Linked DNA regions of Homo sapiens: region 1 is linked to region 2. Evidence: fine-mapped expression QTL. A gene starts in region 2. The other region holds a variant in brackets. All regions are shown on one strand. Distances are between the middles of the regions.

The links. PIP is the estimated chance that this variant, and not a neighbour inherited with it, causes the effect. A credible set is the group of variants that fine-mapping cannot tell apart.
Region 1: its variant is the best candidate, but not a certain one, in a credible set for the expression of ZNF215 in tibial nerve (GTEx, PIP 0.50).

The regions. Positions count from the first base shown.
Region 1 is chr11:6,995,581-7,000,969 of GRCh38, forward strand. It overlaps ZNF214 (zinc finger protein 214), which reads right to left. Exons shown (of 3, transcript NM_013249.4): 3 at 1,505-5,389. The coding sequence ends at 4,282. Among named protein-coding and RNA genes, the nearest start is that of ZNF214, 22 kb to the right of the region's middle. The variant T/G (reference allele first, on the strand shown) is at 3,312.
Region 2 is chr11:6,923,804-6,929,192 of GRCh38, forward strand. ZNF215 (zinc finger protein 215) reads left to right here and starts at 2,623. Exons shown (of 7, transcript NM_013250.4): 1 at 2,623-2,882; 2 at 3,859-4,004. It overlaps LOC107984019 (a long non-coding RNA gene), which reads right to left. Exons shown (of 4, transcript XR_001748112.3): 2 at 2,014-3,359; 3 at 695-772.

The sequences.
Region 1 (5,389 bases), 72 kb after region 2:
CCTCCACTGTTAACACTATGTTAACACCTTATCTCTTTTAGGGGTAACTGCAATACCTCCTAATTGGAATCCCTGCTTTGGCTCTAGCCTCTACTTTGTCAGTTCTTAACACAGCATTCAGAATAAGCCTGTTTAAATTTGTTAGATCACTTAAAACCCTCCAGTGGCTTTTTACTTCACTTAGAATAAAAGACAAAGCCTTTACAATTACTTACAAGGCCCTATTACCTTTAATTTCCCTCTGTTTTCCTCCTCCCTTACAGTGCTGCAGTACATTCCAGGTCCATTCCTAGCCTCAGACCCTTTGCACTTGCTCTACCCTCTACACAGAATTCTTTTTCCATGGAGAGCTCCATGGCTCACTTGCTCCCTCACTTGTTTTAGTGAGATAACATCCTGGGATCTGAGTATGTGCATATGAGCTTCTACCATATGATGTTACATAACCCTGTTCTTTACAAGCCCCCTAATAGTATGAAACTCTATTTCCATAGAACATATTCCTGTAGAATTACTGTAGCAAAGAGTAACAGCAATTTTAAGGCTCAGGATTGGCCAAATTGTTTTTCCAAAAAGTCGTTATCAATTTACCCTCAACATAAGCATAAGTATACATCACTCCATACTCTTGCTGAAAATGGCTATTGTCATTTTTGTTAATAAAAGTGATACTGCTTTGCTTTAATCTGTTTATGTTCTTCGTCAAAATTTTAAATTAGGTGTCCATTTAATTAAAAAGAGTTTGTACTGTCACAATCATGGCAAATATTTCTCCTATTTTTGTCTGACTTATATGTTTTTCACCCAGTTTAAAAATTTTTATGTGGTCAAATTGTGTATTTTTTCTGAGTGTTTAAAAATCCCTCTAGAGAATTTTAAATATTTTATAGTGGAACCTCCTTTAAAAAAACAAAATCAAGTCATTTTTGCATATGAAGAGATAAAATGTGGCTACACTTGCAGTTCTTTTGCTTCTGAAGATACTAGTCTTCATGAAACCACATGGAGGTCCATGGAACACAGCTTGAAAACCTGTATTCAATCAATGTTTTATTCTGATATAGGTCATGAAATGAAAGTCTTTTTTATTAAAGAGTTAAATAATGATCTCAGCACAATTTACTGAATAATCCTCCTATTCGCAGATCTTTATCATGTGTGAACTCTATAAGCATATGCACTGTATGTTCAAATACACATATATAATCCATACACTGGTATATTTCTAAGCTATTTAGTGACTTAGAATCCTAACTTTTTTTTTCAAATATACAATTAAATTCTCCATTATTACAACTTCATATACCAATATACAATTTATTATATGTTAGGGCAATATCATTAATCTTTCTTACAATTATCTTTGCTCTTCTCCAATGTCTATTTTCCTTAAAAGACTAGAACATCTTTATCTCAAATTCATTGGGATTTTCATGAGATCTGAAACAAATATATAAATTAGGAACATTCCCTTAAGGAAAATTAAGACTCCTCTAGTCAAGTCCTCTTTTATATTTCCCCGTTTTTTATTATTTTCATTCTGCATTTTTGTAAATTAAAAACCAGATTTTTTGACAATTACATTTCCTGAATATTCCAAGAATTTAGAAAACTAATGATTTTGTATTTTTGCCCAACTTAATGAGTTTAAATTAGTGCACTTTTCACCTTTAAAAACATATTGTAGGTACTCCTTTATGTTTGTCTAATAAACCTTCACCTGGTCTCACATTTAAGCAATATCACATTTTCATCTGTTATAGCACATAATTAGAAATTTTTAACCCAGTGTTTTCAACATTTTAAAATGAAGCATTGAACGTGTTTTGATACATTTGGCTTTAATCATCTTGATCCGTTTATTTTAATATTTTAGGCCAACTTCTTGGGGATTTTTTTGGTAGTCATTGCTACAGAGACTGAATAATTTTTGCTTTTATCTTCTCCCATTTTGAAAGGTATATGCACTTTTTTTAGTTTTATTAAGTTGTAATTTTAGGTTTGTAAAAAAAAAAAAAAAAGGCCTTTCTTAAATTGTCATTCAAAAAGAAAATGTTATTATGAGTCCCTGCTATTTAAGATCAGAAATGTGGCACTTATGGTCTCTCTCCAGTTGCCGGATGTAGCAACTAAAAACAGAAATGACCAGTTAAATTTGAATTTCAAATGTATGAAATTTTAGTGTAAGTCCCATGCAATATTTGGGACACCCTTATACTAAAACAATTATTCTTTGCTTATATGAAATTCAAACTTAACTGGGTGTCCTGACAACCTTACTCTCCTACCCAGACTCAGCATTTGTACACTTTACACTCAGCATTTGTATATTTTTATTGCACATTTAATTTTTTGAAGTTTTGGAAACTATCCAGACAACTGCATATCTAATTGATTTCAGTGCTTATCACTAGTCCTTTTATACCATGATTTCCACATTCACAAACTCTCTTTAAGGCACATATACGCTACACTGTTTTCTTGCTTATCAAAAATATTTGTTTCCTGCACATATGAAAGACACTTTTGTTATAAAACTGGTGATAATAAACTTTTCAAATCTCAAAATTCTGAACGTGCTGCTCCATTGCCTTCTGAGTTACTGTTGCAGAGCTCTGTATCCACCCTCCCTTTCTGGTTTTGCAGATAACCAGAATTTTTCTTTCTGCATGCTTTTAATTGCTTCTTTCTAACCTGTTTCTAAGGTTGCTTTAATACTGGTTTTGCCTAAAACTTAGTGACCATATACTTTTAACTCAGAGAAAGTTTCTTAATGTCTTTGATCATTGATTCTATGCCAAATGTTCTTTCACCTTCCTTAGAGACACCTTTAATTCTCACACTGGACCTCCATCCTCTGATATTCATATCTGTTCTTTCTTAGTTTCCATCTCATTATCCTTTTCAGATACATTTAAGATCAGATCAAGTTTATCTATTAACTATCAATTATTTTATATTCTTCAGTGTTACTTTTTATTGCATTTATTTTGATACAGTATTTCAGAGCTCCCTGAAGTCCTTCTTTGTTGTATCTATTTCTCTTTTCACTTTAGATACTCTTCTCTACTTGTATATTTCTACTCTATCTTTACTGAGTTCAGATTCTCTGTTATGCCACTAAGGACACCAACATTTCTGGAAATTTCCTCTGAAGCCTGCAGCAGCTAATTTTCAGGGCAATAAGTTTCCAGGTCTTTAGGATGATATTCTTTTCTTCAGTATTGCAATTCCCTCTAATTTTCCTAAACATGTCCACTTTTTTTTCTCTTGGTATTACTTCAGCATATTTGTGTATCAATAATTAAGAC[T/G]GTGTATTCCGACTAACTCTATTCTGAGATAATGGCCAAACTCTCTTTTTACATAATTAGCTTCAGGGTTCATCGTTGCACAGAGTTCTGAGTTCAATGCTGTCCTTGCAGATATTTCTCTATTACCACTCTGTTCTACTGAGATTAAATAAAATTCTACTGCTTGGATCTCTAATTCCGAACCAATGGAGTATCTTCCATTTCTAGCACTTTTGTCCATACCCTTCACACCTTAGAGAAAATTCTGTACTTCTTGTTGTTTGGTATCTGAACCTATTATTAAGCGTGGAAAACCGGAAAGGGAAGGGATGAGTGCACTGTAGTCACCTCAAAGTGAAGCACCCCTGCAACAGAAGGATGGTCCCTGGGTTTTCTGGTTGACAGAGATAACAACTCAGATACACTGTCTCAGACACAATGTCATACAATGCTTTCCTATCTTTTATTAGGTGGCTTTTGTCCATAAACAATTGAATTCTACCGGCCAAAACTGAGTTTTAAGTTCTATGTGTTTCCATCTTTTCTGTTACTTCCTAGGGAGTTTTTAGGGGAGTTAAGAGATGTCGTTTAACAGTTGGCCAACCAGTTTCAATTCAAACCAAAATTTAAGTAAATATTTTGAAGACAGTGAAAATACAAAATTGAACACACAATTTCATGCACATTAAAATGCACAGAAAAAAAGACTAGAATGAAATAGAATGAAGAGTTTTCTCCTTAAATGTTTAATATATTTATGACTGTATTATATTTATAGTAGGTAAAGAAAAATACACTATAATTTTAAATATATAGGGTTTTTTCTAAAGATCTCCTTTTGAAGCAAATAATTCTTAGTGGGAGATAGGGGAAACTATAAATGTTGCTTGGGATTACTTGTGTTATTTATAAGATTTCCTTAACAGCAGGATTTATAGGGTTTAAAGGTTAGGTAAACTTTGATTAAAGCTGTTAACTAAATGAACAATATTTATAAGTTTCCTCTTCTATGATTATTGTGAAGATGTGAATTATGATCAAATCCCTTATAATATTCACGGCATTTGTAAGGTTTCTCTCCTGCATGGACTCTTTGATGAATTCGAAGAGCTGAGCTATGACTGAAACCTTTACCACACTTAGCACATTGATAAGGCTTCTCTCCTGTATGGACCCTCTGATGAATGTGAAGATTAGAACTGTGACTAAAACCCTTTCCACAATCATGACATTTATAGGGCTTTTCTCCTGTATGGACTCTCTGATGAATGAGAAGATGTGAACGCTGACTGAATCCCTTGCCACACTCTTCACATTTGTAGGGTTTCTCTCCAGTATGTACTCTTTGATGAGTGTGAAGCTTTGAACTCTTACTGAAGCCCTTCCCACATTCAGGACAAGTATAGGGTTTCTCCCCTGTATGGACTCTCTGATGAATGCGAAGATCTGAGCTGTGACTAAAGTCCTTTCCACAGTCATCACATTTATAAGGTTTCTCTCCTGTATGCACTCTCTGATGAATTTGAAGATTTGAGCGCTGGGTAAAGCCTTTACCACAGTCTTCACATTTATAAGACTTCTCTCCTGTGTGTACTAACTGATGAATTCGAAGATTTGAGCTCTGGCTGAAACCCTTACCACACTCATCACACTTATATGGTTTTTCTCCTGTGTGGACTCTCTGATGAACATGAAGTACTGAACTCCGATTAAAACTCTTACCACACTGATTACATTTAAAAGGCTTCTCTCCTATGTGAAGTCTCTGGTGAATGTGAAGTAATGAATTTCTACTGAGGTCTTTATCACACTCAATTTTATAGAATTTCTCTTCTGTGTGGACTCTTTGATGATTGTGAAGACTAGAGATCTGGCTGAAGCTCTTACCACATGCATTACAGCTATAAGGTACCTCCCCTATGTGAACTCTCTGATGAAAGTGAACTCCGGAGCTCTGATGAAAGTTACCGTCAACTTCATCACATCCGTACAGCTTCTTACCTATGTGGTTTCTTGGATGTCTATACAAGTCTGATCTCTGAGAGAAGCATGCTTTACAGATGGAGCATTGACAGAGGTTTTCTCCAGGTTGATTTCTC
Region 2 (5,389 bases):
TTATTTTAGATGCTTAGGCTACTCCCCCACCCATTCCTTGCAGATTCTAGCCCCTGACTCACTGCCACTCTCCTGAAGATACTGCTCCTGTGTTATAGTTGTTGGTTATTTTAATTTTCCCATAGAATGAAATATTCAAATAGTTTGCATTCTGAGATTCCTTAATCCTCGCTTCTCCAATGATTACAGCTACTCATTCCCATGGTCATATCTTAAATATTGGTGTTAATGATAACTGCCATCCCATCTGACCAAATTTCAAACACACTCCTGAGTAAAACAAAATGATTGCTATTTTAAAGCACTAAAGTTTGAAATGGTCTGTATGCAGCAATGGATTACTGACACACTGAGAATTATGTTCCCACTCATTCCACCAAAATAGATGCCAATGGGGCTTCTTCACAAAGCTGTCTGCATGAAACCACTACATACTAGGGAGGGAAGGGGAAAATAAAGACAAAAAATTCTAATGAAAACATACTTAATACATACACCTAGAAATCATCATAATGATGACGTATCAGTCAGGGCTTTTAGTTTCAAGCAACAGAAACTAAGCATGATTTAAGCTAAACGTAAAAATATTGAAATAGTATTCGAGTCATGTAGCCAGAACCACAGACCAAAATTGTACCACAGAATTGGCTCTATGAGGACAAGACTTCCATTCAGCACTAGAAGCATGATTTACCTGCCAACACCATCAGCACAGGACACTGCTGCCGGAGCTGCTGATTCTGGAAACTGAATATTGCTGCATCCATTGCCACTGTTGGAAAGAAAAAAAATGTCTTCTGACAAACACAACCTGAGTCAGGCGATCAAATTGAACACCAACAATGATAAGTCATGTTGATAGTATGTACCTGTGATATGATATAATAAAAATGGCACTCTATCTCTGTGACCTTCATCTCCAGTCTAATCATAGGAAAAATATCAGAAAACTCCCAATAGAGGGAGATCATACAAAATACTTGACCAGTACTCCTCAACACTGCCAAGGTTAGGAAACACAAGGAAAGTATGAGAAATCGTCACAGTCCAGAAGAGCCTAAAGAGACATGACAACTAAATGTAATGTGATATTCCAGTTGGGATCCTGCATCAGAGGAAAGAAAAAAGATAAAAACAAAACAAATAAACCAGCTAAAGAAGTCTGGTCCTTACCAGCCTGGACAACATGGCAAAAATCCATCTCTACAAAAAATAAATTTAAAAAAAAATTAGCCAGGCATGGTGGCAAGCACCTGTAGTTCCAGCTACTTGGGAGGCTGAGATGGGAGAATCACTTGAGCTCAGGGAGGTCCAGGCTGCAGTGAGCTGTCACACCACTGTACTCCAGCCTGGCAGCCTGGGTGACAGAGTGAGACCCAGTCAAAAAAAGAAGAAAGAAAGAAAAGAAGCAAGCAAGCAAGAGAGAAAAAGAAAGAAAGAAAGAAAGAAAGAAGAAAGAAAGGAAAGAAAGAAAGAGAAAGAAAGAAAAGAAAAGAAAAAAGCAAAGAAAATAAGAAATCTGAATAAAGTATTGTGGACTTAATGTATCAATGTTATTTTATTTTTTATTTTTATATTTTATTTTTATTTTCTTAGTTGTAACAAATATACCATAATAATTTAAGAGGGTAATAACAGGGAAAACTAGTTGTGGAGTAGAAGGTAACTCTGTATATTACCTTCTCAATTTTTCCAAAACTGTAAATCCAAAACTGCTCTAAAAAATAAGGTCTATTTAAAAAGAAATAAAAGAAACTATATGGTGTGTCCTTGTTTTTTTGTGTCACTAGCTGTTCAAAGTTGCCATCTTGTTTTACCTTAGTCCACTCCTGGCCTAGATATAAAGCTCTCTCTGGTTTAAGTTCTTTCACTCTGCTCCTACAGCACTGTCCACATGCCTCTAGGCAAGCACTAATCATATTATCATGTACTTAATGCCACCAAGCATTCTCTCCTTTGTGACACACACATCCCTTCCCTCTGTGTCTCCACACCCACCAGATTTCCTCCTACCTCTCAGGCTGATCCTCCTCTCTCTTTTTTGCAGGTCCGCCTTCCTGACTCAACCAATGGTGTTGGTGTTCCCTGGGCCAATTCCAGCCCATTTCCTTCTATTTTCTCTCTTCCTCTCTGTCCCTTTCTCTGCAGTCCTATTCCAATGGATAGCATCAATCACCATCTACCCAGATTGACCCAAATTTTACAGGTCTAGCCCCAGACATCTCTAAATTCCCAAATGCCTACATCCAAATGCCTAATTGACAATGCTTCTCAGATGCCACAAAGTACCTCAGTCTTAACAAGCCAAAACTGAACAACGAACTGCAAGCCCTCTCACTTCCATACAAAACTGAATGAATGAATCTGTGAACCAATAAACCAATAAAGACCATGTAAGAGACAATGTCTTGTCGAAATTGTCATTGTTTTTTGATTCCAGACAAATGGGGTGTGGGGAACAGAAAGGCGATTTGGACTAGTTTCCCCGGACGGGATGAGGCAGCGCCGGAAGTATGACGCTCATTTCTTTAAGCCACTAGAAGCTCACCGTGAGTCCATTCACAGGGCCAGAGTTCCAAGTGTGCGGCGTGGGCGGGGCCTGCAGAAAGGGACGGGGCCTGCAGAAAGGGACGGGGCTGGCAAAGGCCTGGTCTACCTCACCGATCCGGGTCGCGGGGGCTCCTAGGGGGTTCCTTCCACAGCTGGTGCGCGTGCGCAAGAGTGCGTCGAGGTTGTTCCGCGGCAATTTATGAAACTCGGAGCCGGCAGTGAGTTGAGGGTTCGGCGAGGTCAGGGATTCCTAGTTGCAGCGTGATTACCAACGCCAGCTCCCTTCACTGTCCAAGACAGCGATTCCGCGGCTCCTCTGAGAACTGGCGCTTGTGAGTGACTGAACGGGCCACTGGAGAGGAGCGGTGCTCACGGGTATCGTTCTCGTCAGCGGGCGGTGGGGACGCGGGGTCTTGGAATTGGGAATCACGCTTGAGGGCGTCCATGCGGAACGTGCAGCTTACCTCAGCTTGCTTGCAGTTACCCAGTTTCCACGCTGCCCTCCAAGGTCTGTGCCGGAAAACCTGGAGGAGGGCGCGAGCTGACGGGAGGGATGGAAACGTGGGCTGCGGAAGTAAGACAAGCGTTGAGAGCAGCGACAGAGGGCGAGGGGGTGGGCGGCGGGACGGCTGGGGTCAGGATCCAGCTCCGCTAAAGCAAGGATTTAACCACACTCCTGTCGCCTCTTCCACTCTGCAATAGGGGCAGTCTCCAGACGCGCAGAGTGGTTAGTATGTTATGATCAGCTGGTTTGGGAATGGCTGGTATTGATGCCTCATGGAAAAACCAAGCGTGACTGGATCAATCAACTGGGAAAGACAATGGAGTTTTAATTAATTCATATTGCCTTGTTTTCCCAGTCATTCCTGGCCACCTCCCTAAAAGATTAAAACCTCCAAGTATCGTACTTATTTTAAAATAATTCTTTCTCCATTTAACATAAATGACTTCTATTCAGTCACTTATTTGCAAACTGTTTTCTGTTCCTCTTTATCTAAGCTACTCTCGCCAGGTGGTTCTTACCTCAAGCAGCTGTCCTACCTACAACCTGTTTGATTAGAAATAACCCTCTTCACAGACAGTACCTTTTTTCCATAATTAGCAGCTGTTCGAGTTCCTTGCGGCCATAAAACCGTAGAACTGGTGCCACCTGGTTATATTAGTCTAACCATCCACTACAACTTCAGGTCCCTCCGTCACAGTGGTACTGGCTCCGTGTCTTAATCCTGAATCCCACCTTTATATCAGAGGCATCTATTCAGTACTTTAGAGTTTAACTGTTATATTTCCTGGCTTTGTATATTCCAGTGTTCATCATTTGCCACTTAAGCTACTTGCAGTCACGTCACACCTTGGATCTCTATCATCAAAACTATTCCACCTCGGAAATCTTACCTAAATGCAGCATGCCATCCTGAACGTCTCTCCCTGTCCTAGCTCTGTAACTGTTTACAGTGAGTAATTCATTAATTTGTGTTTTTCACCTACAAACCTCCCAGTATATTTGTTGCTTTTTTTTTATTTCCTGAGTTGGATATTTAATGCATCTCATTCTTGTTTAATTATATGTAAGGCTTTTCCATTGCCTATCAGGAGCTTCAGCTGTGCGCTTTAGATTTTGACGTACAATGTTTTTACTGTTTTTAGATACTTTGCAGTTGTCCTTTTGATTCTCTTTTATCTTTTTTTTTAGAAGCAAACATTTGAATTTTAAAGTAGGTGAAATTGTTTTTTCTATGTGGTGTTAATTTCTGGTTTTGCATTCTAGTAATAAATATGGTTTCCACTACTCTTGTTTACCATTTATCAAGGATTTTCTATTTGGTAGCCTAATAAATTGCTTTTGTAAACATTCCCTTAGGTGCTTGAATAGAAACTACATTTTATCTAGTTTTATTTATCTATTAGGCTAAGCATATTATTTATATCCACTATACTATTACTTTTTTGACTTTATCTGTCAGAGTCTGAGAAAGTTACCTAATATCCCATTTCTATTGTATCACTGTTGACTTCATTTCTTGTTTTCTGAGAATTTTGCCAAAAATGTTTCAAGTATGTTGTACATTTAATGAGTTATATTTCATTATGAGTTATAATCATTTAGTTTCCTCTAATGTATTTGTGCTTTTAATTCATTATAATTTTAATTCACTAAACTCTTGAATATTTTTTGTTTGCCTGGTATTTTTTAAAAATTCTTTTACATTTAGTTTTGGAGTTCTCGTTTCGGATGTCTTTTGAGTTTTATGTAGTTTGAGTTTAAATTTTTACCCGGTACATTTATTGTTGCAATTAACATCTCTGTTATTTTTACTTTTTAGTATAAAGCCTTTTCTGTTTTGTCTTTGACATATGGCCTGTGAGCTTTTATTTTTTCTTTCTCCATTTATGTTACTTTCAAAGTATCTGGGCCCATAGTTCATTTTTTTGTTGGACTAAATTATACTACTTCAGGACTATTCCACCAGTCATATTTAAGAGCTCTCTCTTGGCTGGTGGCTCAAAAGTGGAGCTAATGAGGCCAGATCAGGAGGGTCGTGGATGTCAACAGTTGTGGCGGGTTTTCAGTCTGTTGTATTGACGGTGGGCCTTGGCAGCTGCGAATGAGGAGAAAGATGGTCTTTTGTTATGAGTTTGGGGAGATGTCAAGGAGTACTCCAGAGGGATTCATTACAGGAAGCACTTGTTTCAGGGCAACTGGAAGCAATTTTCTATCCCGCGAGACCCAGGAATAGCCCATGAAAGGCACCATTACCCTTTTCCTCCCCTGGCCATGACAACCTAGATGGGATCTTTCAAGCCAGAAGGCACCTGCCTCTGTGGCTTTCCACTTGCT